Regions from separate parts of the Homo sapiens genome. Here region 1 is linked to region 2. Evidence: fine-mapped expression QTL. A gene starts in region 2. The other region holds a variant in brackets. All regions are shown on one strand. Distances are between the middles of the regions. Region 1 holds the start of CYP1B1-AS1 (CYP1B1 antisense RNA 1). Region 2 holds the start of CYP1B1 (cytochrome P450 family 1 subfamily B member 1).

Region 1 (15,966 bases), 48 kb after region 2:
CCTGACCACCCAAGTCTGACTGAGTTCTCCCACATTTATCCCAGCTGTCACGGATGAGAGGCACTTTCTCTTCTGCTGACCTTCTGGCTCCTGGTGATACTGTCTACAGCACAGATGGAAAGTACCCAGGAAACAGCATAACAACAACAACAAAAAATCACATTTTTTAGCTTCAAAGCAAACACCAAAGTTAAAAGCCCAACGCCTGAAGGAATTTAAGGACCAAAGTTATTTAGGGCAGAAGCTAAAAGGAGGTGGCCTACCCCCTACCCACGGACCCCAGGCTTCAAATAGGTGAAGGTTGGAGGCTGCCAGGCCCTGAGCAAGCATCATCAAAGAAGAGCACATCCAAGAGTACCCCAGTGCTCACTCTGCTTTGAAGACAAACAGCCCTCCTAATTAGAAACAGCTTCATTCACATGCCAGATGTCCATGCTTCCCTTCCAATTATTTTCAGAAACATCATAAAGAACCATTAGCGGCAGTGCAAAATATCCTGGGTTGTTTTTTAAAAGAATTTGTCCATTCTTATGAGTTCAGTTTGATATGAAGAAGATTGCAATCCGCCTATTCCTAAGAGGTTTTTGGAGCAGGAGAGGGACTCAAGATAAGGATGTGTAAGGATTTGATCACCAGAAATACTACCACATATTTGGTTTAAGCATAAAGAACAAGCATCTTACAAAAATGTTAGCCAAATGTCTCTTTACATCACACACACACACACACACACACACACACACACACACACGATTAGTACACCCTGAGCATTTATCTAAGAATAACATGAACAATCAAAAGTTTTTGGAAGCAGAGGATCTAGATCATGAGTTATAGTTCTGAATTCTGTGTTGGTCAGACTACTTCGAAATACATTGTCCACTTCAGGAAACCACATCTGGAAAGGGACATTGACCAATTCAAGAAACCCCAGAAAGTGGGAAGAGCACAACCATGGTGGACCATAGACTTCTTTAGGGCAGGGTCTGTGCCATGCCTTTGCTCACCCCCACTGCCCTGGCACAGTGCTTTATACATAGACCATGCCGTAAGATATTTGTTGAATAAATGAGTAAATAATTCATATGTCATGCATAATTGTTGAAGGAAGTACAGTTGGTTAACTCAGAGAATAAAAGGTACAGAGGACATGACAGCTCATGTCACATACCTAAAGGGGTACCACAGAGAATAGGGAAAAGATGTATTCTCTCTTGGTCTTTGGATCAGAATGAAGACTATTTAGTGAAAGCTACAGGAAAGCAGCTTTGACCCAGGATTATTATTATTTTGTGTATCCACCATAAATAACTGTGTGAGGCTCGGGTACATTCTCACACTCAAACTTTAATTTGAGCATTAGAGGGATATAGAAAGAAATTTGGGCTTGTGGCCAGATTAATAACTTGTTCAAGAAATCTTTACTGAGATAGTGCCAGAGGATGCTGAGAAGCAGGGTGAATAAGTAACCAAAAAGGCAGGGTTTCTTCCTTTTTGAAGCTTCCGGTCTATTCAGGAATGCAGACAAGTCAGCAGGTAATCACGGTGTGCACAGGTGAGATGGACTGTGATAAGGGAAGTTCGGGCGCCTCCTGCAGTGGGTGCTCCAGCATCCCAGGGGGCTTAGATGAAGCAAAAATGGGGGATGTGATAGGGGTGGAGGATGATCCAGCATGCATATGAGCTCTAAGGCAGGACAGAGTGGCACTTTGGAGAACCCTCCACCGTCCTTAAACCAGCCCCACTTCCCACTTCCAGTTCTACCCACTCTTGGCTTAGGAAATTTTCTCCTCTTTTTGCCCTGAAAATTAGCCTTGGTGGCTGAGTTTTGCTTTTCAGGTTCTCATTGCTAGTGCTTATTTTGACGCTTAGTGACCATCTCATTCCTACTATTGGCCCGCAGTAGGGAATCAGACCTTTAGTAGACACGGAGCTCTTCAAATACAGAGTGAACTTGGGGCATCTGATCATGTGGGTCAAGATGAACACTACAGAATACAACTGAGAGCCACATGTGAGTGAAGCTGTACTCGAGCTGACAATACTGACATTCAAAAAGCAACAGGATGATGAGAATGTTCTGGAATTAGAGGGTAGTGATAGTTACACAACCTTGTGAATATACTACTGCACACCTTAACATGGTGAATTTTATGGTACGTAAATTACATCTCAATAACATTTAAAAAAAAAAAAAAAAGCAGCAGCAGATGGCTGCTGGAGGAGGCTGAGCTTAAATACCCCTGGTTACACTTCCTCCTTTCCTTGTATTTACTGGAAGGAGAAGGATTTGTCCTAAGATGAATAGTTTTTTCATCTTCAGAAATTCCTGACAAGCTACTACCCTGTCAAGGCATGAAAAATTTCATTAGTGCTGACTTGGTACACAGTCTATTAATTAGTACCTAAATAATTGCATGTTGCCTCTGTGTCATGATTTATAATTGTATGCATGCTTTGATCTTTCTCATCACAGGCAGCACTGAGAAGTGAAGGAATATTTGGGAGGATCAGAAGCTTGGTCCTGATTTTGCCATCAACAGGAACTTGATGACTTCAAGGGAGTCCCCAAACCCTGGGTTTCTGTTTTCTCAACTCTAACATGAGGGGCTAGATGCATCTGGTTTAGTTAGTCTCCATGATGGTTTAGTTCGTCTCCATGATCCTGTGAATTTCAGATGTTGAAAATCTTCGGAAAAGCCCTGAAAGATGAACAGGTAGGAGTTATTGTCTATATTTTACCCATGAGGAAACTAAGGACCTGGGAATCTAGAGGGCTCATTAGCTTTTGAACCAGTACTAGCAATGAGTTCATCTGAATTCTGGTCCCAAACTCCTAGCATGAGAGAAATGTGGACCTTTCATTCCAGGAGTTTAGCATGTAGGAGGTATTCAGCTGGTGAGGGATTAAGGCAAGATTACAGGTTCTTGAGAAACATAAGCGACAGAGACAAGAACATCAGAAAGGGCCGCTGTGACTCGGGTCGTGGCTGCCGATGGAGCTCGTAAGTCAGGAGAGGTTGTTTGCTGAGAAGCTTGCATTCCCTAGAGCCCAAGTGGGTGTTGCCAGGAAACCCTGAGTTTTCCAACTTGGCAATCAGTGCACAGCTGAGTTTTTATAGGAAATTGCCCAGCTCTTTGGAAATTGTATGTGGTATAAATATGGTTTTGAAATTCTATATATTAGCTTAGCAAAAGGCGGAAATATTTTGAAACCCATGGATTTGGGAGATCTGCCGGCATTGCTATTAAAATTACTTTCAGCAGAATTGTACAATATGACATTATATTGCTCAAAATGACTCAATTTTCTAATCTTTGAGACTTCTTAAAAAGAAATGAACCCCAAGTAGAGTAAAGGTGGACTGCAAAAAACAGCTTAGTCTGAATGAAAAAAATTCATCCTTGGCTCTGCATCTAAGAAACTGGCTGTGTGTCCTCAGACAATTCACTTAATGTCTCAGATCCTCAACGTCTTCAACTGCAAATAAAGGGGTTAGAGGAGATCATCTTTAAAGCCCAACTCAGCTCTAACATACTATGATTGGATACCATACACTTGTCCACATTCTTTTCTCTAGCACTTGGGGATTTCTGCTCTTCCAGCCTTTACAAATACAACCTTTCACTGTCACACTCATTCTTCCTTGTCCTTAAAACAGAAAGCCCAGGCATAGTCTGATGCCACTTCTGAGGGCTATAGCAGGTGGCATCTAGTGTCTCTATAGTAACTATTTACACTCCTAGGGAAAATTATCTCACAGAAGCATAGAGAGCCTGACCTTGTCTATAAAGACAGTAAGGTACAATGATTAAAAGAATAGGCTCTAAAGTCAGGCAGACCTGGGTAAATCTGCCACCTACTAGAGAGCTTGGGCAAGCAAGTTCACCATGCCTGGTACCTAGTGAGTGCTGTGGGCCTCTATTCTGGAGGGACAGCAGGGCCTTACGAAACCAGCATGAGATTGTAAATGCCTTGCAGGCTGGATTTTCAAGAGGAAATGCTACCCCCTTTTTCTCCAACATCTCTGGCAAAATTGCTAACCCAAAGGTACTAGGCCCAGCTAGTTATGAAGGGGATGGAAGTGATCTCTATCCAAGGGAAGAACATTTGAATTGATGTTTAAAGGAGTTGTTTAGATTCTTATGAAGGAATAGAGGAAGAGTAGAGGCAAAGACAGAGAAGGGGATGGATGAGAATAAAGAACAAGAAAAGAAGCAGTAGGAGACAAATGAGAAGGTTAAAGCTGATAATTTTTACTTTTATGATAAAAGGAATTTCTAAGCAAATTCTAACCATTTTATCAAGAAGAAACAAATTCACTAACTTATATTTCTGCTTAAAGAAATGCATGGGCATTTTCTTCGCATGTGCAGTTTGTTTAAAAATTAGGCATTGAATGCTTTTTAAAAAATATCTAGATCTATTCTGGACATGCACATTCCAATTGATAGATAGATCAAAATGTCTGATTTTCTTACTGGTAACTTGGCACCAGTTGCCAGTGGCTTCATATGAACCTATCAGCTGCTGTGGGATGGCAGAGCAGTTAAGAGTCCAAGACTAGTCCACGCAGGCCTGCAGCTCCCACATTCTGATGCATCAAAGCCACAGCAAGTTCCTAAAACATAGGCTCTGGATCCAGATGCTTTTGGTTCAAATTTTCACTTCATTATTTCTCAGATGTGTGACTTATGGCAATTACTTACTTCTCTAAGGCTCACTTTCCACATCTGTAAAATAGGGCTAATGATAGTATTTGCTTCATAAGATTGGGGATTGAATGGGATAATGCACTTAGCTCAATACTCACCCATAAACTTTTTTTTTTTTTTTTTTTTTTTTTTTGAGACAGAGTCTTGCTCTGTTGCCCAGGCTGGAGTGCAGTCGTGCGATCTTGGCTCACTGAAATCTCCACCTCCCAGGTTCAAGCAATTCTCCTGCCTCGGCCTCCCATGTAGCTGGGATTTCAGGCACACACCAACACCCCCGACTAATTTTTTTGAATTTTTAGTAGAGACAGGATTTTACCATGTTAGTCAGGCTGGTCTCAAACTCCTGGCCTCAAGTAATCCGCCCACCTTGGCCTCCCAAAGGGCTGGGATTACAGGCGTGAGCCACCACTCCCAGCCAACAATATTCAATTACATACTCAATTACTATGTTCTTTTTCTGGTAACTAGAATGTAGGATCTTATGATTGGCCCCAAGTTCAAAGATATGGGCAAGTAAGTATAATATAAGAGTGTAGATACAGATTTTGTAGGATATATGCCATGGCCTCTGTCCCATATCAGTTTAATACCTATTTTCCAATGTAATGCCCTGAAATCCCAGAAGAGGAAAAAAGAATTTTTTTCTAACAATTAGAAACATGATAAAAAAAACTATCAAAGGTATATTCATTCAGCCATGCAAATTGTAAAACCATAGCAATCATTCTATTTGTTTGGTCACAGTTTAAAAAAGGAAATTTGCTATAAGAAAAATAAATACAAACAAACACAAAAAGAGTTGAATGCCACCTGCAGAAGAAGCACCAATCCAACTATTTTACCCTGCCCACATTCACCATGTTTCTCACAATTGCCTATAAAAAGTAGTCACCATTTATTGTACCAGGCAGTGAGCTAAGTGCTTTATGGACCCTGTCTCGTTTAACTGTCCCCAGAGTCCTATGAGTAGGTATGTTAGTGCCATGCCCATATCACGGATAAGGAGATATGCCAGGTCAGAGAGGCGAGTTGGGATTCACACGCAGCAGACTTGCTCCAGGGCCTGTGTTCTCAACACTGCATGGTGCCGCTTCTGATCTGGATTGTTAAATCTCAGCACCCAGCACTCCTGGCTTGGGTAGAAGGGAATGGGCCCAGAGGTGCTGAGAATGGATCTCATGTACACCTAGGGTCGAAGTTGGAACAGAGAGTATGTGGAGAGCCTGGGCTAAGACTGAAGCCGCCATGATGAAAACCAAACTCAAGCAGTCTTGTTTTTTAAAACCAATGGGAGTAGTAAAGTATAAATGTAAATCTCAGTTATCTTATCATGCCACCCTATAGGTGTTTCCAGTAGTTACTTTAGAGCTATCAAAGATACATCTGAAATAACGGTACTGTGTATATACTTGAGTCCTCTTCCCCAGCTTGACACTCCTAGGAGTCAGGTGTTCTCTGGGCCAGATCATTTGCCCACAAACATAGCAATATGCCTAGCCTTCTCATTATATAAGGTCCCCCATTATATGGGGGACCTTATATAATTTCATCATATGGATGAAAAATGGGATTATTTTATTATTTGACTCTTCTCTCTAGGATTCAAAGTGCTTTTATTTATAGATTTTCATGATTTAACCAATTCACCCAAGAAGTAGGAAGAGGGCAGCTTTATTATTTTCAAATTGTGGACTGAGAAACTGAGATATGCAGAAAGAAATAAAGCTGCTCTGCAATTTGGAAAACCATCTGTGATGCTATAAAAACGTCTCACTGTACTCTCAACCACATAAATCACTATTTTTATTGCCTTCTCTCTGGATGAGATGTGGCTTAATTTGAGAGAGCTGTTTATCATTTGGCAAGCTGAAAGAACCTAATTTCAAGTCTCCATTCTAGTGGGTGGTAAGAATAAAGGGAATTTGCTTTAAGGGAAGAGGAAATGATAAGAATGGGAAGGAAACGGTTAGACCTAAAAAAAATCGATTTTGAAACCCTTTGGATTATCATGGATTTAATTTGCCAAGCATGGGTGAGGGGTCACATGGAATGGGTTTGAATTCTAAGCCACCATTATGACCACTCACTTAATGTTTCTTCCTACCACTCCCATTCTACAGTGAGCCCATGATTAAGATAACAACAGCTTAAATGAGTTAGTGCATAGTATGGTTTGGCTCTGGGTCCCCACCCAAATCCCGTGTTAAATTGTAATCTTGAGTGTTGGACGTGGGGCTTGGTGAGAGGTGATTTGATCATGAGGGTGATTTCTAATGGTTTAGCACCATCCCCACAGTGCTGCCTTATGATAGAGTTCTCAGGCGATCTGGTTGTTTGAAAGCATGTAGCACTTCCGCTGCCCTTCTCCTGCTGGCCATGTGAAGGTGTGCCTGTTTCTCCTTTACCTTCTGCCATGATTGTAAGTTTCCTGAGGCCTCCCCAAAAGCAGAAGCCTTTACAGCCCACAGAACTGTGAGCTGATTAAACATCTTTCTTTATAAATTACCCAGTCTCAGGTAGTTTTTATAGCAATGCAAGAACAGACTAATGAAGAAAATTGGTACCAGAGAAGTGAGGCATTACTACAAAGATACCTGAAAATGTGGAAGCAGCTTTGGAACTGGATAATGGGCAGAGGGTGGAACAGTTTGGAAAGCTCAGAAGAAGACAGGAAGATGAGGAAATGTTTGGAATTTCCTAGAGACTTGTTTAATGGTTTTGACCAAAATGCTCATAGTGATATGGGCAGAGATGGCCAGGCTGATGAGGTCTCAGATGGAGATGAGGAACTTATTGAGAACTGGAGTAAAGGTCACTCTTGCTATGCTTTAGCAAAGAGACTGGTGGCATTGTGCTCCTGCTCTAGGGATCTGTTGAACTTTGACCTTGAGAGATGATTTAGGGTATCTGGCAGAAGAAATTTCTAAGCATCAAAGTGCTCAAGATGTGGCCTGGCTGCTTCCAAAAGCCTAACTCATCTGCATAAACAAAGAAATGACCTGAAAAGGGAGGCAAAGCATAAAAGATAGATAGGAAAATTTGCAGCCTAGCCATGTGGTAGAAAAGAAAAACCCATTTTCTGGGGAGAAATTCAAGCCCAATACAGAAATTTGCATAAGTAAAGAGGAGCCAAATATTAGCAGTCAAGACAATGGGGAAAATGCCTATGAGGCATTCCAGAGACCTTTGGGGCAGCCCCTCCCATCACAGGCCTGGAGGCCTAGGAGGGAAAAATGGTTTCATGGGGCCAGGCCCAGGGCCCTGCTGCTTTGTGCAGCCTTGGGGCATGGCACCCTGCATCCCACTTGCTCCAGCTACAGCTGTGGCCAAAAGGGCCCCAGATACTTCTCAGACTGCTGCTCCAGAGAGTGCAAGCCACAAGCCTTGGTGGCTTCCATGTGGTGTTAAGCCTGCAAGTACAAAGAGGATGAGAGTTGAGGCTTGGGAACCTCCACCTAGATTTCAGAGGATGTATGGAAAGGCCTGGATGTCCAGGCGGGAGTCTCCTGCAGGGGCAGAGCCTTCATGGAGAATATCTAGTAGGGCAGTGCAAAGGGGAAATGTGGGGTTGGAGCCCCCACACAGAGTCCCCACTGGGGCACTGCCTAGTGGAGCTCTGAAAAGAAGGTCATCCTCCTCCAGACCCCAGCTTGCACTGTGTACCTGGAAAATCCACAGGCACTCACATCAGTCCATGAAAGCAGCCACAGGGGATGTACCCTGCAGAGCTGCCCAAGGCCTTGGAAGCCCACCCCCTCCATCAGCATGGCCTGGATGTGAGACACAGAGTCAAGATTATTTTGGAGCTTTAAGATTTAATGACCGTCCTGCTGGGTTTCGGACTTGCATGGGGCCTGTAGCCCCTGTGTTGTGGCTGAGTTCTCCTTTCTGGAAATGGAGTATTTACCCAATGCCTGTACTCCCATTGTATCTTGGAAGTAGCTAACTTGTTTTTGATTTTACAGGCTCATAGGTGGAAGGGACTTGCCTTGTCTCCGATTAGACTTTGGACTTGGACTTTTGAGTTAATTCTGGAATGAGTTAAGACTTTGGGGGACTGTTGAGAAGGGATGGTTATATTTTACAATGTGAGAGGATATGAGATTTGGGAGGGGCCAAGGGTGGAATGGTATGGTGGGGCTTTGTGTCCCTACCCAAATCTCATGTTGAACTGTGATCCCGAGTGCTGGAGGGAGGGTTTGGTGGGAGGTGATTGGATCACAGGGGTGGTTTTTAATGGTTTAGCGCCATTCCCCCAATTTCTTAGGAAATCTGCTTGTTTGAAAGTGTGTAGCATCTCCTTTGCCCCTCTCCTGCTGCTAATGGCCTGTTTCCCCTTCACCTTGTGCCACGATTGTAAGTTTCCTGAGGCCTCCCCCAGAAGCAGAAGCCTGTACAGCCCACAGGAACCATGAGCTGACTAACCATCTTTTCTTTATAAATTACCCAGTTCTTTATGGCAACGTAAGAATGGACCAATAGAGCACATCACTAGGGTAGCACAAAGGAGAGGGCCCAGAAGCAGAGGAGAGATAAACAGCTCATTTTTTTCATCTTTCTCAATGTTTCTTGCTCACTCTCTGTTGTTTGCATCCATTTTTCATTTCATCCCATTTCCTCTTTTTTCCCTTTCATTTCCTCATTTTGGGACAGCAAGAGGTCATGTTCTTGCTGCCAACAGTTA[C/A]GACATTTTCAGTAGTCATGACAGCCACAAAGCCAGGGCTGGACTTGTCCAGAAGTCTGATCTGCAGCAGGAGGGAGTCTGTAGTGTGCAGGGGCTCTCCAGCTGTCACTTAGATCCCAAGCTGCCCCTTCACTTTTAATTTTGCTGATGGTGGCTTTTGTCAAAGGCAATTTAAAATTTAGGGCTAGGTAGTCTAATCTGTCAATCTTTTCTTTTCTTTGTGGTTTCCAGGTTTGTGTCTTACTTAGGAGGGCCTTCCCAATGCTAAAATTATATATATAAACAGATATACCACAATTGCCTAAACAGAAATTTGGGCAAGCTGGCACATTTGAAACAGGGCTGTCTCCTAAAATTTGGAACGTGTGGATAGCGTGCATATGCTTGGACTCTAGGACTTACTTTCTCTGGAAAAATCCGTCTAGCTTCCTCACTCACTGCCTCTGCCTCCCAGCTCCAGCCTAGCCATTTCATCTTATGGTGGGGGAGCACTCAGTTGCTAGGGCCAGAAACCCACTCAGAGTAACTTAAGTAAATGGGGATTACTTGCACAGTGATAACGGAATACTGTGAAACCCAGTTTGAAGAATTGCACCTGGATCACTGAAGGGCTAGAGTCTGGAGCTGCCCTTCCTCCTCCCTTTCTCTCAGTTATCTTTGTCTCTGCTCCATCCTCCCCCTTCGTCAAGCATACTCTGTTACCACATGACCTTAAATGACTGTCTAACTCAGTCCTTGAGCCCACAGAATCTTGTGAGTCTAGCACTCACAGATAAAAAAACACCCTCAGGCTTTCTGTGTCCCAACTCCAAGTTCTAGATAAAGATGTCTGATTGGTTAAAGTGGGTCATGTTTAAAGTGGGTCTACTCCCAATTCAGTTATTGGTGGCCAGGGCCATGAGCCACATGGTTGCCCCTTGGGGCAGTGGGCAAGGTAAAGTTCACAAGATGTGGTGGGGAGGAAATGACCACTGTAACTCTGTGGTCCAGTTCCCACACCCATATTGTGATTTTTGCTCCCCTTCAAGTTTGCCCTTGATGTTGTCTGTAACTGAATTCTGTTTTCTCCCATGGTTAGATTTATACCAGATCCAGGACCTTTTAGGGAGGGCTGTGGTCCTGTCCCCTTGGGGAGGCTCTGATCTAAGACTGCTCCCTCATGGAAATTAAGGAGAAGGGGAAAGCCTAGGCTACAGATGGAGAAGGATGAGTCATTCCAGCAGCCATGGCCAAGGGAACTCCTGGAGACGTAGGGACTGTTTATGTGGCCACTCACCATCATGCAGGCCCCCAATGGGGGTGAGGCAAGGAAGGACATAGAAAGACTGCTCAAGTGCATTTCTGGTTTTGCTTCCTACCGCAAACGACTCTTGTCATATGACTGGGGGAGTGTGGTGGTGGCAATAAGCAGAAAAATTTGAGTCTAAGAGTTGCTTTCTGAATTCTATTAGGGTCAATGTAGTCTAAAGAAGTTGACTTTTGAGGAAATAAATCTTTTCTGTTTTCTGCAGCCAGACTAAGGATTTAGTGGTGAATGGTAGGTGGGAACATAGTGGGACTCTGACTGCTCATACGGCCTCTGTGAGGCTCAATTCTTTTATCTCTAAAAGAGAGAACTGTCTACCTGGTAAGAGAAGATCTTTTGGGAGCCCACTAAACTCTAACATAATGTTATTATACAGTAAGTTCTCACTTAATGTCATCGACAGTTTCTTGGAAACTATAGCTTTAAGCAAAATGACATGTAACAAAAGCGTTTTTTTCTCATCAACGTTATAACAAAACGTTAAAGGAAGTGACATTATTTATGAACCTGCTGCATGTTGTTTTGCTTAAAGTTACAGATTCCAAGAACCTATCGATGACATTAAGTGAGGACTTACTGTACTAGTATCATTTATAACTTATAAAAATGACTTAATTAATATACCACAAAATATGCAGCTTTCATGTTAGAGACCAGATAAATATGAATATTTTGTTAAAATGTCTCTCTTCTCTACTTTACCAGTCTTCACCAACCTCCTCCCTCCAGAATATTCCTCAAGAATATAAAATGCCTCATCAACATGAGACAACAGCAGGAAGCACCCATTCGTAGTAATCCTCTGTATGGAGGAGGCTGTTACATAACCACAAAGGCACAAAGCTGCAGTTTTGAGAACATCTTCCCACGCCAGTTCTAAGCATTGACTTCAACTATGGTTGCTAACACAAGAATCGGCACTGGTGACTTTTGAGCCATCAATCATCCTTTCCTAACACATGAATCTTTTGGAAAAGTATGTGAGATTGGAGATTACCTGTGATGGTTTGGATTTAGATTTTGCCTCCAGGTTTAGGCAATGGTAAATAGGCAGGAGTTTAATAGGAACTAAGGTTATTTGATAATTCCTGGGCCACTGCAAATAGAAAGTGTTGGCAATTTTGTCTTTTGGGCTGCCTCTGATTGAAGGCACAGGCCTGTTTCATGAAGTTCTGAAACATGAACCGGCTGTATCTGCGTCAAAGTCAGTGGTAACCAGGTTAATAGCACTGACAACCATGTTCTTTTTACAGGAAACACAAACGTGAATCACTTGTTCTTACTTTTCTTTTACAGTGGTCTCAAATAGTCAAGACCCCCTGCTGGGAGGAGCTTCTATCCTGCTCTGTGGAAGAAATGGGCATGCCAGATGCCTGGAAGATCAGAGGCTCACATTCCAGGTGGGTCACCCTGGTTCTTCTCATCAGAATCAACTAGAGAGATGGGCTCCCTCTCCATCCCTACCCACGGGCATTGGTCAGGCTGAAAGCAAAGAAAGACAATCCATTGCCCCCAGGAGAACTGGTCTTACTCTAAATCAGTGGCCTGCAAACTGTTTATGTGGATGTCCGGATAGTACATTTTTTGCCTGTGTGGGCCTTCCAGTCTGTCTTAGTTACTCAACTCTGTGATTTTTGAGCAACCATTAGACAGTATGTAAATGAATGAGCATGGCCCCATCTGGCCCTCCACCCACAGGCCATAGTTTGCTGACTCCTGCAAGAGTAAAACCCTTTATGAACTAGAGAGTTCCAGGCTTGAACATGGGTCCAGAAAATATGGGAAGGCAAACCTCACACATTTGTGGTTGTGTGCCTCCTAAGTGCTTTGTGTCACTGTTGGCTTCCAATTCCTAGGAAGGGCCTTGGGCACCAACCGTATGTTGACCCAGGGAGAAAAGGACTTTTGGGAGTGAGAGTCAGAGAATGGGTACCACGTACCCTTCAGATCCCTCAGCTTTCAGATTGACACAGCAACAGATCATAGTCTCCTAAATTCTCTGGCTTAAAGCATGGAGCCACACTTATCCTGCCAGGCTGGGTCCCCAGTTCTTAGATGAGGCTAGCAGTAGCCATGAGGAGTGGGCATGTGGCTAGTACAAGAGAAGGAATGCTAGGTGGCACTTGGTCAGCAACTTTCCAATATCATGTTTCTTAATTGTATCACCAAATGTGTATTATCGTCCTGTCTTTTTTTTTTTTTAATTATTATACTTTAAGTTTTAGGGTACATGTGCACAACATGCAGGTTTGTTACATATATACACATGTGCCATGTTGGTGTGCTGTACCCATTAACTCGTCACTTAGCATTAGGTATATATCCTAATGCTATCCCTCCCCCCTCCCCACACCCCACAACAGTCCCCGGTGTGTGATGTTCCCCTTCCTGTGTCCATGTGTTCTCATTGTTCAATTCCCACCTATGAGTGAGAACATGGGGTGTTCGGTTTTCTGTCCTTGCAATAGTTTGCTGAGAATGATGGTTTCCAGTTTCATCCATGTCCCTACAAAGGACATGAACTCATTATTTTTTAGGGCTGCATAGTATTCCATGGTGTATATGTGCCACATTTTCTTAATCCAGTCTATCATTGTTGGACATTTAGGTTGGTTCTAAGTCTTTGCTATTGTGAATAGTGCCACTATAAACATACGTGTGCATGTGTCTTTAAAGCAGCATGACTTATAATCTTTGGCTATATACCCAGTAATGGGTCAAATGGCTGGGTCAAATGGTATTTCTAGTTCTAGATCCCTTAGGAATCGCCACACTGACTTGCACAATGGTTGAACTAGTTTACAGTCCCACCAACAGTGTAAAAGTGTTCCTATTTCTCCACATCCTCTCCAGCACCTGTTGTTTCCTGACTTTTTAATGATTGCCATTCTAACTGGTGTGAGATGGTGTCTCATTGTGGTTTTGATTTGCATTTCTCTGATGGCCAGTGATGATGAGCATTTTTTCATGTGTCTTTTGGCTGCATAAATGTCTTCTTTTGAGAAGTGTCTGTTCATATCCTGTGCCCACTTTTTGATGGGGTTGTTTGTTTTTTTCTTATAAATTTGTTTGAGTTCATTGTAGATTCTGGAGGTTAGCCCTTTGTCAGATGAGTAGGTTGCGAAAATTTTCTCCCATTCTGTAGGTTGCTTGTTCACTCTGATGGTAGTTTCTTTTGCTGTGCAGAAGCTCTTTAGTTTCATTAGATCCCATTTGTGAATTTTGGCTTTTGTTGTCATTGCTTTTGGTGTTTTAGACATGAAGTCCTTGCCCATGCCTATGTCCTGAATGGTATTGCCTAGGTTTTCTTCTAGGGTTTTTATGGTTTTAGGTCTAACATTTAAGTCTTTAATCCATCTTGAATTAATTTTTGTATAAGGTGTAAGGAAGGGATCCAGTTTCAGCTTTCTACATATGGCTAGCCAGTTTTCCCAGCACCATTTATTAAGTAGGGGATCATTTCCCCATTTCTTGTTTTTGTCAGGTTTGTCAAAGATCAGATGGTTGTAGATATGCAGCATTATTTCTGAGGGCTCTGTTCTGTTCCATTGATCTATATCTCTGGTTTGGTACCAGTACCATGCTGTTTTGGTGACTGTAGCCTTGTAGTATAGTTTGAAGTCAGGTAGCGTGATGCCTCCAGCTTTGTTCTTTTGGCTTAGGATTGACTTGGCAATGCGGGCTCTTTTTTGGTTCCATATGAACTTTAAAGTAGTTTTTTCCAGTTCTGTGAAGAAAGTCATTGGTAGCTTGATGGGGATGGCATTGAATCTGTAAATTACTTTGGGCAGTATGGCCATTTTCACGATATTGATTCTTCCTACCCATGAGCATGGAATGTTCTTCCATTTGTTTGTATCCTCTTTTATTTCATTGAGCAGTGGTTTGTAGTTCTCCTTGAAGAGATCCTTCACATCCCTTGTAAGTTGGATTCCTAGGTATTTTATTCTCTTTGAAGCAATTGTGAATGGGAGTTCACTCATGATTTGGCTCTCTGTTTGTTTGTCTGTTATTCGTGTATAAGAATGCTTGTGATTTTTGTACATTGATTTTGTATCCTGAGACTTTGCTGAAGTTGCTTATCAGCTTGAGGAGATTTTGGGCTGAGACAATGGGGTTTTCTAGATATACAATCATGTCATCTGCAAACAGGGACAATTTGACTTCCTCTTTTCCTAATTGAATACCCTTTATTTCCTTCTCCTGCCTAATTTCCCTGGCCAGAACTTCCAACACTATGTTGAATAGGAGTGGTGAGAGAGGGCATCCCTGTCTTGTGCCCCTTTTCAAAGGGAATGCTTCCAGTTTTTGCCCATTCAGTATGATATTGGCTGTGGGTTTGTCATAGATAGCTCTTATTATTTTGAGATACATCCCATCAATACCTAATTTATTGGGAGTTTTTAGCATGAAGGGTTGTTGAATTTTGTCAAAGGTCTTTTCTGCATCTATTGAGATAATCATGTGGTTTTTGTCTTTGGTTCTGTTTATATGTTGAATTACATTTATTGATTTGCATATGTTGAACCAGCCTTGCATCCCAGGGATGAAGCCCACTTGATCATGGTAGATAAGCTTTTTGATGTGCTGCTGGATTAGGTTTGCCAGTATTTTATTGAGGATTTTTGCTTCAGTGTTCATCAAGGATATTGGTCTAAAGTTCTCTTTTTTTGTTGTATCTCTGCCAGGCTTTGGTATGAGGATGATGCTGGCCTCATAAAATGAGTTAGGGAGGATTCCTTCTTTTTCTATTGATTGGAATAGTTTTAGAAGGAATGGTACCAGCTCCTCTTTGTAACTCTGGTAGAATTCGACTGTGAATCCATCTGGTCCTGGACTTTTTTTGGTTGGTAAGCTATTGATTATTGCCTCAATTTCAGAGCCTGTTATTGGTCTATTCAGAGATTCAACTTCTTCCTGGTTTAGTCTTGGGAGGATGGATGTGTTTGAGGAATTTATCCATTTCTTCTAGATTTTCTAGTTTATTTGCGTAGAGGTGTTTATAGTATTCTCTGATGGTAGTTTGTATTTCTGTGGGATCGGTGGTGATATCTCCTTTATCATTTTTTATTGCATCTATGCAGTTCTTCTCTCTTTTCTTCTTTATTAGTCTTGCTAGCGGTCTATCAATTTTGTTGATCTTTTCAAAAAGCCAGCTCCTGGATTCATTAATTTTTTGAAGGATTTTTTGTGTCTCTATTTCCTTCAGTTCTGCTCTGATCTTAGTTATTTCTTGCCTTCTGCTAGCTTTTGAATGTGT
Region 2 (14,942 bases):
TCATCTTTATATCAGGGTAGTCATGAAATTTAATTTTTAATTTTTTTATAGTATAAGGAATCTACAAAGGCAAAAGCACCCAGGGCCCACGAAAGTTACAATGTGAAAGTAAATTTTTTTTCTCCCTCATTTCCCTGGACAATTCCAACAGACATGCTGTTCTCATTTTATACAAAGATAATTGGTGTCCTGATGGATAAAGCTACATACTGTATTTTTTAAATTTGAAAGCAAATACCCAATGTTCATAAAATTATGGTACAAACTGTAGTACTTATTCACTGTTGATGATACAAACTGATACAATCTTTTTAAAAAACAAAATCTTAATACGAGGCAAGAGACATGAAGGTAACCTCTTCCCGCCTCATTTTAAACCCAGTAATCCATGCCTAGAAATGTATTTTCAGAAAATAATTTAAGAGATACAAAAATATGTAACCACAACAGGACCTAAAATTCTAAAAATTAGCCAGGCATGGTGGTACACGCCTGTAGCCCCAGCTACCTGCCAGACAGCGGCGGGAGAACTGCTTGAGCCCAGGAGTTTGGGACCAGCCTGGGTAAGGTAGTGAGACCCTGTCTCTAAGGTAAGTAAATACATAAAATTAAAATAAAAATTTTAAAAATGCAATCAAGGCCAATGACCAACATTAAAGTTCAATAAATGATTATATATAACTATACATTATCATAGCAAAATACTATATAGCCATCAAAAATTACCAAAATAAATATTAAAAGATTAGAAATGTCCACTACCTTGAGTCAAAGTGTTAGAAGTCAAAAAACAAGTAACTGATTGTTTGCAACTCCGAAAAAAAATGTATACACGTATGTGATGAAGTGGAGTTATTTTTAGAATCGCTTCTTCAACATTATATTGCAGGAGTCTGCCAACTTTTTTCATAGAAACATGTATGGTGGGGAGAGCCAGAGAGTATCTATTTTAGACTTTGTGGACCAAACCCTCTTTGTTGCACTACTCTGCTCTGCCTTGTGTTGTAGAGTGAACGCAGCCATCGACAATGTATAAATGAATGGGCATGACTGCGTCAATAAAACGTATATACAAAAACAGATCGTGTAATTTGCCAAGCCCTGTCATACGTCTTTTCACTAAAAAGGAAAAAAAAAGTATCAGCATATTGAATTGAAAGTGACCTCCAAATTGTTTTATTTCTTTTTGCCGCCTAATTGGAGTACTCGGAGAACTATTGTGGTTCTAATGAAAAACAAAGGCCGTTTCAAAAGTTAAAATGCCTATCTGCGGATGCACAAAAACCTATGGAACCTATTCCGGGATTTCCTTTTCCCTGATCTCTGGTTGACTTTTCTTTATTCGATTTCTGCCTCTCCCTCACCCACCATGGGTGTTTCTATGATTTTAATACTAAAAAGCCATTTTAAGTATACAGAAACTTTTAATTTGTGAAGGTAGCTGTACAGTATCTAAGGAAATATAGATTGCAGTGGATTTTAATAAGGAAAGAGTCATTCTCTGCCTTCCAAACACCTTTCTGTGGCGCCTGCAGATTCAGCATCTCCAACTGCTCACTTGTGCTCCAAGAAATGACACAAAACCAGGATTTCTGGTCTCTTCGGCAATCAAAATTTGCCTTGCGAAACATTTGCCCCTAGGGATAGTGTTTCCACAGTAAATACTACAGGCCGCCCAGTTAAATATGGATTTCAGATCAACAAGGGCTAATCTTTTAGTGTGAGTATTCCCGTGTAAAACTTACTTTTCTTTTGCCAAATCTGGCAACCCGACACCAGGGACCTGTTGAATCCGTGCTTAGTAGAGACCAACGTGGGCATCAGGGGGTCCGCTAACTGAGCCAAGCGCAGGGGCCAGAAACGTCTGCAGGCGCCTCCTGGATATCCCATCTGCCTTTCTGAATGCTACTCTGCTTTCGTAAAAGTGACTGCTTCTTGTCTTCTACCCCGGCATTTCTCAAACTCCTAGCGCGGAGGTTTTATAAACCTAGCGCTGCCCGCTAGTTGTGGCCGCCTTCTGAAAGTTTCTGTGCGGGTTACCTGTCGGCTGGCCCGGCCTCCATGGGCTTCCTTGGCCTGGAACAAAGCCCTGACGGGCGGCCCGCTTTTAGCGCCAGGGCTGGGCGGCCTCGGATGCACGCCGAGGACTAGCCTAGGAGAGGCTGCTGTGTTTAACATATTTATGACATTACCTTTTCTTTCGGAACTATTCCAGTTCTGATTGTAATGCGCCAGGGAGAGAGATATCAGGGCTCATCTCCAAGCATTTAAAAACTCTTGTTTTTCCGGGGGGTGGAGGGGTCTTTGCAAATGTGTTCTCACTCGCAAGCAGGGGAGGGGACGATAGAGACAAGATAGGAGACCGGAGGGGTCGGGGCACCGCTGGGTGGGGCGCGTGCGCGTGTCGCAGCCCTCACTGTGAGTCCCTTTACCGACGCGATCTTGGTTTTGAGGGGTGGGGACCTGGAGCGAAACCCCAAACCCGGGGCCCTGCTTGCAAACTCAGCATATTCTGTCTCTACTCCGCCTTTTTCAGAGGAGAAAAGACCTGGCCCACGCCTCCCAGAGGCTTTACCTGGTGAAGAGGAGGAGCAGCCACTGCAGCGCGGTGGACAGGGTGTCCTGGCTGGCGCCGAAGATGTCAGTGATAGTGGCCGGTACGTTCTCCAAATCCAGCCGCGCGCCACCACCGTGCGAGTCCCCGGCCGCCTTCTTTTCCGCAGAGAGGATAAAGGCGTCCATCATGTCGCGGGGGGCGGCCCCGGGCCGAAGGCTTTCGCAGTGCCTCAAGAACTTGTCCAGGATGAAGTTGCTGAAGTTGCGGTTGAGCTGCTCGAATTCGCGGAAAACGGTGCGCACCGGGTTGGGGAAGTACTGCAGCCAGGGCATCACGTCCACCAGGCTGCCCGCGCCCACCGTGCGCCCGAACTCTTCGTTGTGGCTGAGCAGCTCACGGAACTCGGGGTCGTCGTGGCTGTAGCGGCAGCCGAAACACACGGCACTCATGACGTTGGCCACGGCCACGACGGTCAGCGGCCTCGGGTCGAGGAAGGCGCCGTCCGCGCTGCCGCGCACCAGCAGCGCCACCAGCTCGCGCGCCTCGCTCAGCACGTGGCCCTCGAGGACTTGGCGGCTGCGCGGCTGGCGCGTGAAGAAGTTGCGCATCATGCTGTGGGCTGCGCGCCGCTGCACCTTCCAGTGCTCCGAGTAGTGGCCGAAAGCCATGCTGCGGCCGCCGGACACCACACGGAAGGAGGCGAAGGCCGGCCGGTCGGCGAAGGCCGAGCCCTGCTGCACCAGGGCCTGGTGGATGGCGCGCTCGCCATTCAGCACCACTATGGGGCAGCTGCCCAGGCGGATCTGGAAAACGTCGCCGTAGCGCCGCGCCAGGCGAGCGAACGAGAGGTGAGCCGCCTGGCCCACCGCCGCCGCGTTTCCGATCAGTGGCCACGCAAACGGGCCCGGGGGCGCGGACCGGAGCTGCCGCCTCCGTTGCCTCAGCAGCCGCTGGCCCACATGCACAGTGGCCAGCACCGACAGGAGTAGCAGGAGCGTGGTCTGCTGGATGGACAGCGGGTTTAGCGGCCAAGGGTCGTTCGGGCTGAGGCTGGTGCCCATGCTGGGGACAGAGAGGAGAAGGCGTGACACTCAGGGGTGCAGAGACAGGAGCGGGCGCCCCACGCCCCTACCCCAGCCTCTGGGGACTGAGTGCCGTTGGGTGGAGAGGTCGGAGCTGACTCTCTGGAGAAATGGCCGAAGACGCCCCTTCCCATCCCCAACCCACTCTCCCTTGGAGAAGAGAAGGGGCGTGTTTCCACCTCGCTGTAACCCAGCGCCAAACCCTTCCCCTCCCCGCAAGGCGCGTAACGGTTCCTGCAATCTGGGGACAACGCTGCGGGCATCGAGGCGGTGGCGCTTGATTTCCTTTAAAGTACCTACCACGCCACCCGCTACCTGTAATAATCCATCTGAAGAGGTCGCCGGGCAGCGCCTCGGCAGACAGACTGACCTGCGGGGAGGTGCGGTTTCCAGTGGCGCGGGACAGCCGGCTCCGAGAAGGAACTGGGACCTTTGCCTAGGGCAAGACGTCAACAGGAACCCGCAGGCCCGGCCTGGACACCTGCTGCCCTCACTGGAAGCTTTAACTCCCACTCGAGTCTCTTGGCGTCGTCAGTGCCAGGAGCGCTTGGATTGGGATGGGGACGGAGAAGGGTGCCTCGCTCGCCGAGCCCCGCTGCCCTTGGGGACCTGGCAAAGTCGAGGTTTCCTCACAGCGTTGAGATTGAGACTGGGGGTCGGTGAGTGGCGTCAATTCCCATGCCCTTGCGGCTCTCACAACTGGAGTCGCAGAAGCGCTCGCTCCCACTCCCACTCCAGAGTCAAAGCGCGCCATCCCGCTCCTCCGGGTTTTAAGGACTGGGTAGAAGGAGGGCAGCGCGACCTGGCAGGGCGGGGCCTGCGGGGGGCGGGGCGCGCCGCACACCAGGCCGCTTTGACCCGGACTCCCGTCCAGGCGCACCGGCCGGCCTCGGAGCTCTACCAGCAGGCTTTCATGGGAGCGGAGGTGCCCACGTTTCCATTGTGCGGTAACCGCGCTTCATCACAGCCACCTCCAATCGAGGCCGCACGGTGTCCCCAGAACCACGCTCGGTACAACCTGCCCCGGCCGCTGCGCTCGACTTGGGAGCGCGCCCCGCCCCGAGCGCACGACCTCCCTTCCCTCTCCGCGACTTGAGCTTGCTTCCCGGAAAGCCAGTGTAGTGGCAGCGGTTTGCCTCACAGCGCCCCTGGTTGGTTGTTTAAATTTTATCTTAGGTTCTCGCAAACAAATTGCCACCTCAGTGGAGGCTCTTTGGCATGCTAAATTTTTTCCAGTTCTTGCGGCGAGATCAGGAATCCCTAAAAGTAGCCGCTCCCCCGCCCCGGGGCCCCGACAGTGCTTGGGCACACAAAGGCTCCTGGGGCGCAGCTGGCCCTGAGATTTCCCGCGTAGAGGCCACTCCAGGTGGCGCCGCCCGCTGGTGGGCGCGGGGCCGCCCAGGCTGCGATGGAAGCCGTTGGCGCAGGGCGGGGAGCCAAGCTGGGGCGACTGGGGGGGCCTGGGGGAGCTAGCGGGGCGGGACCCGAGCGGGGCGGAGAGTGGCAGGAGGAGGCGAATCTCCGCGCTCCGGCGAACTTTATCGGGTTGAAGTTTCTGCTGTCGCCTCCCCTTTGCGTGCGGAGCTGGGCTTTGCGTGCGCCGCTTCTGGAAAGTCGGCTCCAGTCATATCCCTGGGCGCTGCCTGCGGCCGCTCCTCCCGCGCTTCTCACGGCACCTGACACGCGGAGGCGGCGGCCGAGGGTGGGGTGCCGGCCACCACCACCCTTGGCGTGGGGTGCCGGCCGCCACCACCCTCGGCTGCGCACGCACAGTCGCGCCTGCCAGGCCAGCGAGGCGGACGCTTGGGCCACCACCCGCAGGCCGAGCCCGGGCGCGTATCGCCACCTCGCTGCGCACCGGCGGCTCTGTGGTCTTCCTGGGCGCGCTTGCGGTCGCGAAGGGGGCCCTCCCTTTATAAGGGAAGCCGGAGGCGCTTGGGCGGGGGTGGCTTCCCCCGCCTGGCGCGCCCTTTCCTACATGCTGATGCATAGGATTTTCAAGACAGCTAAGAGAACAAGGACTTCACGAGGCGGGGGGAAGGGCGAACTCGAGGGAAGAGGTGGGATGTATCTGGTTAACCAGGTAGGAATTGTACTGGCTTCATCAAAGGATAAATATAAAAGTGATAGGTTCACCAGGGACAACCCTGCACTTTGAGCTCCACTCGCGCTGCGAATCTCGTGCTATTATTGACCTGTTTACAGATGAATAAACTAGGGTTCAGAGAGGTTGCGTGACTTAACCCAGGTCGCGCAGCCATCAAGAAGTGGAGCCAGGGCTTGAAGCCACCAAGTCCCACTCCAGATCCTTCACATAAGTTTACACGGAAGAAAATTGCAGATAAGAGGCCCAAATGCCTTCTTTCCTGCCTCCCTTAAAAAAAAAAATGCACGTGGGGCTAGGCGCAGTGGCTCACGCCTGTAATCCCAGCACTTTGGGAGGCTTAAGCGGGCGGATCACTTGAGGTCAGGAGTTCGAGACCAGCCTGGCCAACATGGCGAAACCCCATCTACTAAAAATACAAAAGTTAGCCGGACGTGGTGGTGCACACCTGTAATCCCAGCTACTCGGGGATCAGGGGGGAAGGCAGCAGAATTGGTTGAACGTGGGAGGCAGAGGTTGCAGTGAGCAGAGATTGCACCACTGCACTACAGCCTGGGCAGCAGAGTTTAAGTGAGACTCTGTCTCAAAAAAAAAAAAAAAAAAAAAATCAGCTGGAAGAACTTTTTAATTATTGTTTTTGTTTTCATAATTGAGAATTCTGAGAATAGCAGAGAAGAAATAGTATGCTAACCCTTTGCAATTAAATTGCTTATGAGGGAGGCCAGGGGAGTGTGCCTCATAGCTGACCCTGGAATGACTGATTACATTGTAAAGAAACACAAAGGAGTGTCTGAAAAGAATCTGACTTCTTGAGAGATTGAAACCAGCAATCAATTTGCTGACCTGATAAAGAAATGTCTTTTCGTGATGGCTTTTTTTATTTTTATTTTTATTTATTTATTTTTTTTGAGATGGAGTCTCACTCTGTCACCTGGGCTGCAGTGCAATGGCGTGATCTCGGCTCACTGCAACCTCCGCCTGCCAGGTTCTCCTGGCTCAGCCTCCCAAGTAGCTGGGATTACAGGTGCGCACCACCACACCCGGCTAATTTTTGTATTTTTCTAGTAGAGATGGGGTTTCACCATGCTGGCCAGGCTGGTCTCAAACTCCTGACCTCAGGTGATCCACCAGCCTGGGCCTCCCAAAGTGCTGGGATTACAGGCATGAGCCACCGTGCCCGGCCTGTGATGCCTTTTATTCGGTATCTTTTGAAGAGTTTTCTGGAAATGATTTCACACACCATGATGGGGAACTTAGATAGTGATGGAGTTTTAGTTTTTGAGCAGTTGCATTGGTTTAATAATAAGCGTTGGTTTCCCAGAGGTGAGTTGGCCTACACAGCCTTTGAAATGAGTTTCATAGCAACCTTCCCATGTCCAGCTTTAGCAAGATCCTTGCCTAATAATTCAAGACTCTGGTGCATGCATCAATCTCTCATAGACTTTAATTTAGTAGACGGGAATTATCTATGAGCTAATGCCAATCCTGAGCTGTTGACATTCCTGAAAGCCTTTATCACAATACCTCTGCCAGAATGAGAGCAGATGGAAGTTGCCTTTAAGTAAATTCCTATTTTTAAAAAGTATAAAACGAGGTTGTTCCTAAGACCGCCTGTCCAACTCCTCAATAATGCCATCTAGTTTTTAGATCAACTAGATGCATGCTTTCCTGCCATCGCAGATAGATCAGATATATCCTCCAAGCTGTAGTTCCTTGGGCTCAGCTCTTTTTCTAGGACATGACTCAAAAATCAGAGGAACTAGGTTGGTAAGTGCTGTCAGAAAGATAAGCCCTTATCGGTTATGGCAAACCAAAATGACTGGCTATGGTAACACTTTTTGCAGAGAATCTTCAAGCCTGGAGTTCTTAGGGCTTTATGGTGCAAACTTCATTGAATGCCCCATCCGGTACCCTGATAAGGACTTCGGATAAATCCAGAGCAGCCTGTTGGCACCCCGACCCAACTCAAGGCAGAGCCCTGCCTCTAGTGAGAATCTACGCAGGCTCTTTAATTATCATCACAACTTCTCAACCAAAGCAGGGACCTAAGGCCCAGGAATCTCCTTTCAATCAACACAGAATATGGGCATTCTGCCCTCCCAAATCTCAAACTTGAATTGTTTGTTGCAAATAACTTTCAAAAAGAACAGCTAAGCTAGAGGGATAGTTTAAAGTAGAGAGAGGTTTAAAATATCTTATCTTGTATTGACTCGAAGGAACAACTTAAGCTTGTTTAAGCAGAACAGGAATGCACTGGCCCATGTGCAGAGAAGGATAACCGTGATGCTTCACAGGATACAAGGACCCAGGCCGCTCTACCGGCTCTCTGCCTATGCTGGTCTTTGCTTGGGCTTTCTCTCTTTGCATGGCAAGGAAGCAGCTTAAAATTAACAAAACAAAGAGAAAGAGAACAGCTCTCTTCCAGGGTCCTAGAAGGACTCCAGGGGGCCAGGCTGGCATCAGGTTTTTACCCTGTGGGCAAGGGCTTGTTCTGTCATCAGAAAAAAAGAGATGGCAGAACATGCTAGGAAGCCAAAGAGCTGACCCAGTCCACTCCATGTATACATGTCTGCCCACTGGTTTCTTTGGGTTGGAGGATAACCTAAGGAAACCCAAAGCCATTATTGTTATTATTATTTTAAATCAGCAGATATATGCATTGCCCTTAGAGCCAGTAGCCCAGAAAGCTCTGCCCTTCTGCTGTCAGGCTGGAACTCAGTTTTCTTCATGGTCTTCCTCTCTAGTGTGACCCCTAAGTCAGTTTAATGGGTAGCCACTGTGCTTTTCCAGTCATCTCCAAACACACATACCCACATGCACTGAGGAGAGTGGAGGAGAATAAGCCATCTCTGGTAGGCTCTTGACATTTGGGTGGGCAGGATTCAGTCATCAGGCACATGCTGGTAGGCAAGAGGAGCAGAAATAAGGAGACACACCAAGTGGCTGAGGGTGCGATAGAGGGAGGAACTGTAGGATAATGCACACCAGGGGCTGGACCATGAAAGGAATCTTAGGAATTGATACCAAAACCCTGTGCCTCACCTGAAATGCTCCACTTCCTTCCTCCTGGCAATACACAGGCAGAGAACCACAGAGCTAATAGAAAGGTATTTTATCTAATCTCAGAAGCCATCATTTGTAGGATGCACCCTTATTTTTATGTACTAACATAAAGAAAGGAAGCTACCAATTATAATTGCATCATCGACTCTAAGATACATCCAGATTTCGGAGATGTAAAATGGAAAGTTGAGGGTATGATTTGGAGCTGACAAAGCATTATACATTTCATGCGCGTCCGTGTGAAGAGACCACCAAACAGGCTTTGTGTGAGCAATAAAGCTTTTAATCACCTGGGTGCAGGTGGGCTGAGTCTGAAAAGAAAGTCAGCCAAGGGAGACAGGGGTGGGGCGGTTTTATAGGATTTGGGAAGGTAAAGGAAAAAGGGGGGTTGTTCTCTGGCGGGCAGGAGTGGGGGTCACAAGGTACTCAATGGGGGAGCTTTTGAGCCAGGATGAGCCAGGAGAAGGAATTTCACAAGAAAATGTCATCAGTTAAGGCAGGAACAGGCCATTTTCACTTCTTTTGTGGTGGAATGTCATCAGTTAAGGCAGGAACCGGCGATCTGGATGTGTACGTGCAGGTCACAGGGGATATGATGGCTTTGCTTGGGCTCAGAGGGCTGACATTCCTGTCTTCTTATATTAATAAGAAAAATAAAACTAAATAGTGGTAAAGTTTTGGGACAGCGAAAATTTTTGGGGGTGGTATGGAGAGATAATGGGCGATGTTTCTCAGGGCTGCTTCAGCGGGATTAGGGGCGGTGTGGGAACCTAGAGTGGGAGAGATTAAGCTGAAGGAAGATTTTGTGGTAAGGGGTGATATTGTGGGGTTGTTAGAAGGAACATTTGTCATTTAGAATTATTGGTGATGGCCTGGATACAGTTTTGTATGAATTGAAAAACTAAATGGAATAAGAGAAGGAGAAAAACAGGTATAAAAGGTCTAAGAATTGGGACAACTCAGGACATCTGATTAGAGAGTGCCTAAGGAGATTCAGCACAGTCCTGCCAGCAAAGATTATTTATTTACTTCAAGAGTTAAGAGTGGCAGTTTGGGGATAGCACCAGGAGATATCAGCTGTGATGGCTTGGAGAAACAGCGTAAACCGGCAGTGTAAATAAGAGCAGGGCGTGTATGAGTAGTTGAGAACGGTGAATAGGAGTATGACTAGACAGAAGATAATAGGGATGATAAGTTTTTTTGGGGCACAGTCTAAGTTGGTCTGGTGTCTGGAATGAGACTGGGGCCTAATAAAAAGGAGCGTCTATACAGGAGCTCAAATGGGCTGTACCTTGTAGCATTCTGAGGACAGGTCTGACTTCTGAGAAAGGAAAGTCGTAAAAGTATTGTCCAGTCCTTTTTAAGTTGGTAGCTGAGCTTGGTGAGGTGTGTTTTTAAAAGACCTTTAGTCCGTTCTACTTTTCCTGAAGACGGAGGACCATAAGGGATATAAAGATTTCACTGAATACTAAGAGCCTGAAAAACTGCTTGGCTGATTTGACTAATAAAGGCTGGTCTGTTATCAGACTGTATAGAGGTGGGAAGGCTAAACTGAGGAATTATGTCTGACAGAAGGGAAGAAATGACTGCGGTGGCCTTCTCAGACCCTATAGGAAAGGCCTCTACCTATCCAGTGAAAGTGTCTATTTAGACTAAGAGGTATTTTAGTTTCCTGACTTGGGACATGTTGAGTAAAGCTAATTTGCCAGTCCTGGGTGGGGGCAAATCCTCAAGCTTGATGTGTAGGGAAGGAAGGGGCCTGAATAATCCCTGAGGAGTAGTAGAATAGCAGATGGAACACTGAGAAGTTATTTCCTTGAGGATAGATTTCCATGATAGAAAGGAAATGAGAGGTTCTAAGAGGCGGGCTAGTGGCTTGTACTATAGCATAGCCTGCCTTTGCTGGTGTGTGGCGATTAGGCCTGGTGGAACTGCCATCAATAAATCAAGCGTGATCAGGGTGAGGAACAGGAAAGAAGGAAATATGGGGAAATGGGGTGAATGTCAGGTGGATCAGAGAGATACAGTCATGGGGGTCAGGTGTGGTATCAGGAATAATGTGGGAGGCCGGATTGAAGTCCGGGCCAGGAACAATAGTAATTGTGGGACTTAACAAAGACTGAGTACAGCTGAAGGAGCCGGGGAGCAGAAAGTATATGCGTCAGGTGTGAGGAAGAAAATAGATTTTGGAAGTTATGAGAAATGTAGAGAGTGAGTTGAGCATAGTTTGTGATTTTTAGGGCCTCTAAAAGTATTAGGGCGGCAGCAGCCGCTGCATGGAGACATGAGGGCTAGGCTAAAACAGTAAGGTCAAGTTGTTTGCATAGGAAGGCTACAGGGTGCGGTCCTGGCTCTTGTGTAAGAATTCTGACCGCACTAACCATGCCTAGGAAGGAAAGGCGTTGTTGTTTTGTAAGGGATTGAGGTTTGGGAGATTAATCGGACACGATCAGCAGGGAAAGCACGTGTGTTTTTATGAGAATTATGCTGAGATAGGTAACAGATGAGGATGAAATTTGGGCTTGACTGAAGTAATGGGGGCTGTCTGTGAAGCCTTGCGGCAGTACAGCCCAGGTAATTTGCTGAGCCTAATGGGTGTCAGGGTCAGTCCAAGTGAAAGCAAAGAGAGGCTGGGATGACGGGTTCAAAGGAATAGTAAAGAAAGCATGTTTGAGATCCAAAACAGAATAATGGATTGTGGAGGGAGGTATTGAGGATAGGAGAGTATATGGGTTTGGCACCATGGGGTGGATAGGCAAAACAATTTGGTTGATAAGGCATAGATCCTGAACTAACTTGTAAGGCTTGCTTGGTTTTAGGACAGGTAAAATGGGGGAATGGTAAGGAGAGTTTATAGGCTTTAAAAGGCCATGCTGTAGCAGGCAAGTGATAACAGGCTTTAACCCTTTCAAAGCATGCTGTGGGATGGGATATTGGCATTAATCGGGGTAAAGGTGGTTAGGTTTTAATGAGATGGTAAGGGATGCATGATCGGTCACCAAGGAGGGAGTAGAGGTATCTTATATTTGTGGGTTAAGGTGGGGGAATATAAGAGGAGGACGCAAAGGAGGCTTTGGACTGGGAAGAAGGGCAGCAATGAGATGTAGCTGTAATCCAGGAATAGTCAGGGAAGCAGATAATTTAGTTAAAGTGGCTCGCCCTAATAAGGGAACTGGGCAGGTGTGGATAACTAAAATGAGTGCTTAAAAGAGTATTGTCTAAGTTGCCACCAGAGTTGGGGAGTTTTAAGAGGTTTAGAAGCCTGGCTGTCAATACCCACAACAGTTATGGAGGCAAGGGAAACAGGCCCTTGAAAAGAAGGTAATGTAGAGTGGGTAGCCTCCGTATTGATTAAGAAGGGGACGGACTTACTTTCCACTGTGAGAGTTACGCGAAGCTCGGCGTCTGTGATGGTCTAGGGGGCTTCCAAGGCAGTCGGGCAGCATCAGTCTTCAGCCGCTAAGCCAAGAAGATCTGGGAAGCAGTCAGAGAGCCTTGGGCCAGAGTTCCAGGGGCTCTGGGAGTGGCTGCCAGGTGAGTTGGACAGTCCGATTTCCAGTGGGGTCCCACACAGATGGGACATGGCTTAGGAGGAATCCTGGGCTGCAGGCATTCCTTGGCCTGGTGGCCAGATTTCTAGCACTTGTAGCAAGCTCCTAGGGGAGGAGGTTCTGGAGGAACGCCTGGCCGCTGCGGTTCAGGCGTTTGGAAGTTCTTGTGTGCTGGAGATGTGGCTGGGGTTTGTCTCACAGTGGAGGCAAGGAATTGCAACTTTTTTCTATTATTGTACACCTTGAAGGCGAGGTTAATTAAATCCTGTTGTGGGGTTTGAGTGCCAGATTCTAATTTTTGGAGTTTTATTTAATGTCGGGAGCAGATTGGGTAATAAAATGTATATTGAGAATAAGACGGCCTTTTGACCTTTTAGGGTCTAGGGCTGTAAAGCGTCTCAGGGCTGCTGCCAAAGGAGTCACGAACTGGGCTGGGTTTTTATGTTTGATGAAAACGCTATCTGATTTGGGATAAAGAAAAAGGAGCATTAACCTTGACTGTGCCTTTAGCTCCAGCCACCTTTTTAAGAGTCAATTGCTGGGCAGGTGGGGGAGGGCTAGTCACGAAACGAAACTGTAAGGCAGACCAGGTGTGAGGAGGGGAGGTGATAAAAGGATTATAGGGTGGAGGAGCGGAGGCTGAGGAAGAATTGGGACCTAGCTGGGCCTGGCGAGGAGCAGCCTGGGGAGGTGGGGAGAGGTCAGATGGGTCCGTAGAAAAGGAAGATTAGAAAGCCTCAGCGACGCTTGGGGTTGGGACTGAGGGGACAGGTGGGAGGGAAAGAAGGAAGATTTGGGATGAGTTGCATTGGGAACAGAGACTAGAGAGGGACCGATGTGTAAAAGAATGCCTGGATGTCAGGCACCTCAGACCATTTGCCCATTTTACAACAAGAATTATTTAGATCTTGTAGGATGGAAAAATTGAAAGTGCCGTTTTCCGGCTATTTGGAACTACTGTTGAGTTTGTATTGGGGTCAAGCGGCATTGCAGAAGAAAATAAGATGCTTAGATTTTAATTTAGGTGAGAGTTGAAGAGGTTTTAAGTTTTTGAGGACACAGGCTAAGGGAGAAGAAGGAGGAATGGAGGGTGGAAAGTTGCCCATAGTGAAGGAAGCAAGCTTAGAGAAAAGAGAGAGTAGAGACATGGAGGGAAGGGGTTTGGGGGTTCTTACCTTCCAGAAAAGCGGGAAAGGGGTTGGGGCACGGAGAAGAGGTTGGGGCACGGAAATAAGGGATGGGGGCACAGAGATTAGAGGTTGGGGTGTGGAAATAAGGGATTGGGGCACAGAGATATAAGAGGTTGGGGCGCGGAAATAAGAGATTGGGCGCAGAGATAAGAGGTCGGGGCACGGAAATAAGGGATTGGGGTGCAGAGATACGAGGTTGGGGTACTTGCCCCTCCTCTAGAAAAGCAGGACTTGCCGCTCAGGGTGAAGGAGAAGGGGTTGGGGATTTCTTGCCCCCCAGAAAGGAGGAGAAGGGGTAGAGACACGGAGAGAAGGGGTTGGGGTACTTGCCCCTTCCCCAGAAAAGCAGGACTTGCCGCTAAGGGTGAAGGACCAAGGCAGGCGTCCCTGCATGGTCTGACACCTCTGAAACCTGGGTGAATAATCATTGCAGTCCCTGCAATGATTAAACACCAAGGGAAGGCTGCCTTCCCAGTCCCTGACCGGCGCCGGAGTTTTGGGTCCACGGATAAAACGTGTCTCCTTTGTCTCTACCAGAAAATGAAAGGAATTGAAATTAAGAGAAGGGAGAGATTGAAGAGTGGAAAGGAGAAAGTGGTTGAAGGACAGTGAGAGAGGTTGGAGAAGAGAGTAAGAAGAGGCCGCTTACCCGATTTAAAATTGGTGAGATGTTCCTTGGGCTGGTCGGTCTGAGGACCTGAGGTCGTAGGTGGATCTTTCTCATGGAGCAAAGAACAGGAGGACAGGGGATTGCCCTCCCAAGGGAGGTCCCCCGATCCGACTCATGGCACCAAATTTCATGCATGTCCGTGTGAAGAGACCATCAAACAGGCTTTGTGTGAGCAATAAAGCTTTTAATCACCTGGGTGCAGGCGGGCTGAGTCCAAAAAGAGAGTCAGCCAAGGGAGACAGGTGGGGCCGTTTTATATGATTTGGGTAGGTAAAGGAAAAAGGGGGGTTGTTCTCTGGCAGGCAGGAGTGGGAGTCACAAGGTACTCAGTGGGGGAGCTTTTGAGCCAGGATGAGCCAGGAGAAGGAATTTCACAAGACAATGTCATCAGTTAAGGCAGGAACAGGCCATTTTCACTTCTTTTGTGGTGGAATGTCATCAGTTAAGGCAGGAACCGGCGATCTGGATGTGTGCGTGCAGGTCACAGGGGATATGATGGCTTAGCTTGGGCTCAGGGGCCTAACAATACAGGCTGACAAGGATTCTTTCTTTGTATTAAGCACTTTCTAGATTTCTTGGAGTGGTTAGCACCAAGGGTATTGGCTACCAATCCTCATTTCTATTAATATTATTTCATGTAGACAAATGTAGACAATTGATGTTTTCTCAATCCTATGTAAAGTTGGTGAGAAGGTGATTTAGAAGATTCTGCTATTTTTATTGAC

The links.
Region 1: its variant is fine-mapped to the expression of CYP1B1 in whole blood (INTERVAL, PIP above 0.99).

What each region holds. Positions count from the first base shown.
Region 1 is chr2:38,119,509-38,135,474 of GRCh38, forward strand. It overlaps CYP1B1-AS1 (CYP1B1 antisense RNA 1), which reads left to right and starts at 11,597. Exons shown (of 3, transcript NR_027252.1): 1 at 11,597-11,682; 2 at 12,003-12,106. The region is part of intron 2 of LOC107985871 (a long non-coding RNA gene); the gene reads right to left. The variant C/A (reference allele first, on the strand shown) is at 9,401.
Region 2 is chr2:38,071,771-38,086,712 of GRCh38, forward strand. It overlaps CYP1B1 (cytochrome P450 family 1 subfamily B member 1), which reads right to left and starts at 4,381. Exons shown (of 3, transcript NM_000104.4): 1 at 4,010-4,381; 2 at 2,576-3,619. The coding sequence starts at 3,618. RefSeq lists a promoter at 4,362-5,737, cis regulatory regions at 4,376-4,383, 5,304-5,333, silencers at 4,377-4,466, 5,377-5,496 and an enhancer at 5,204-5,402.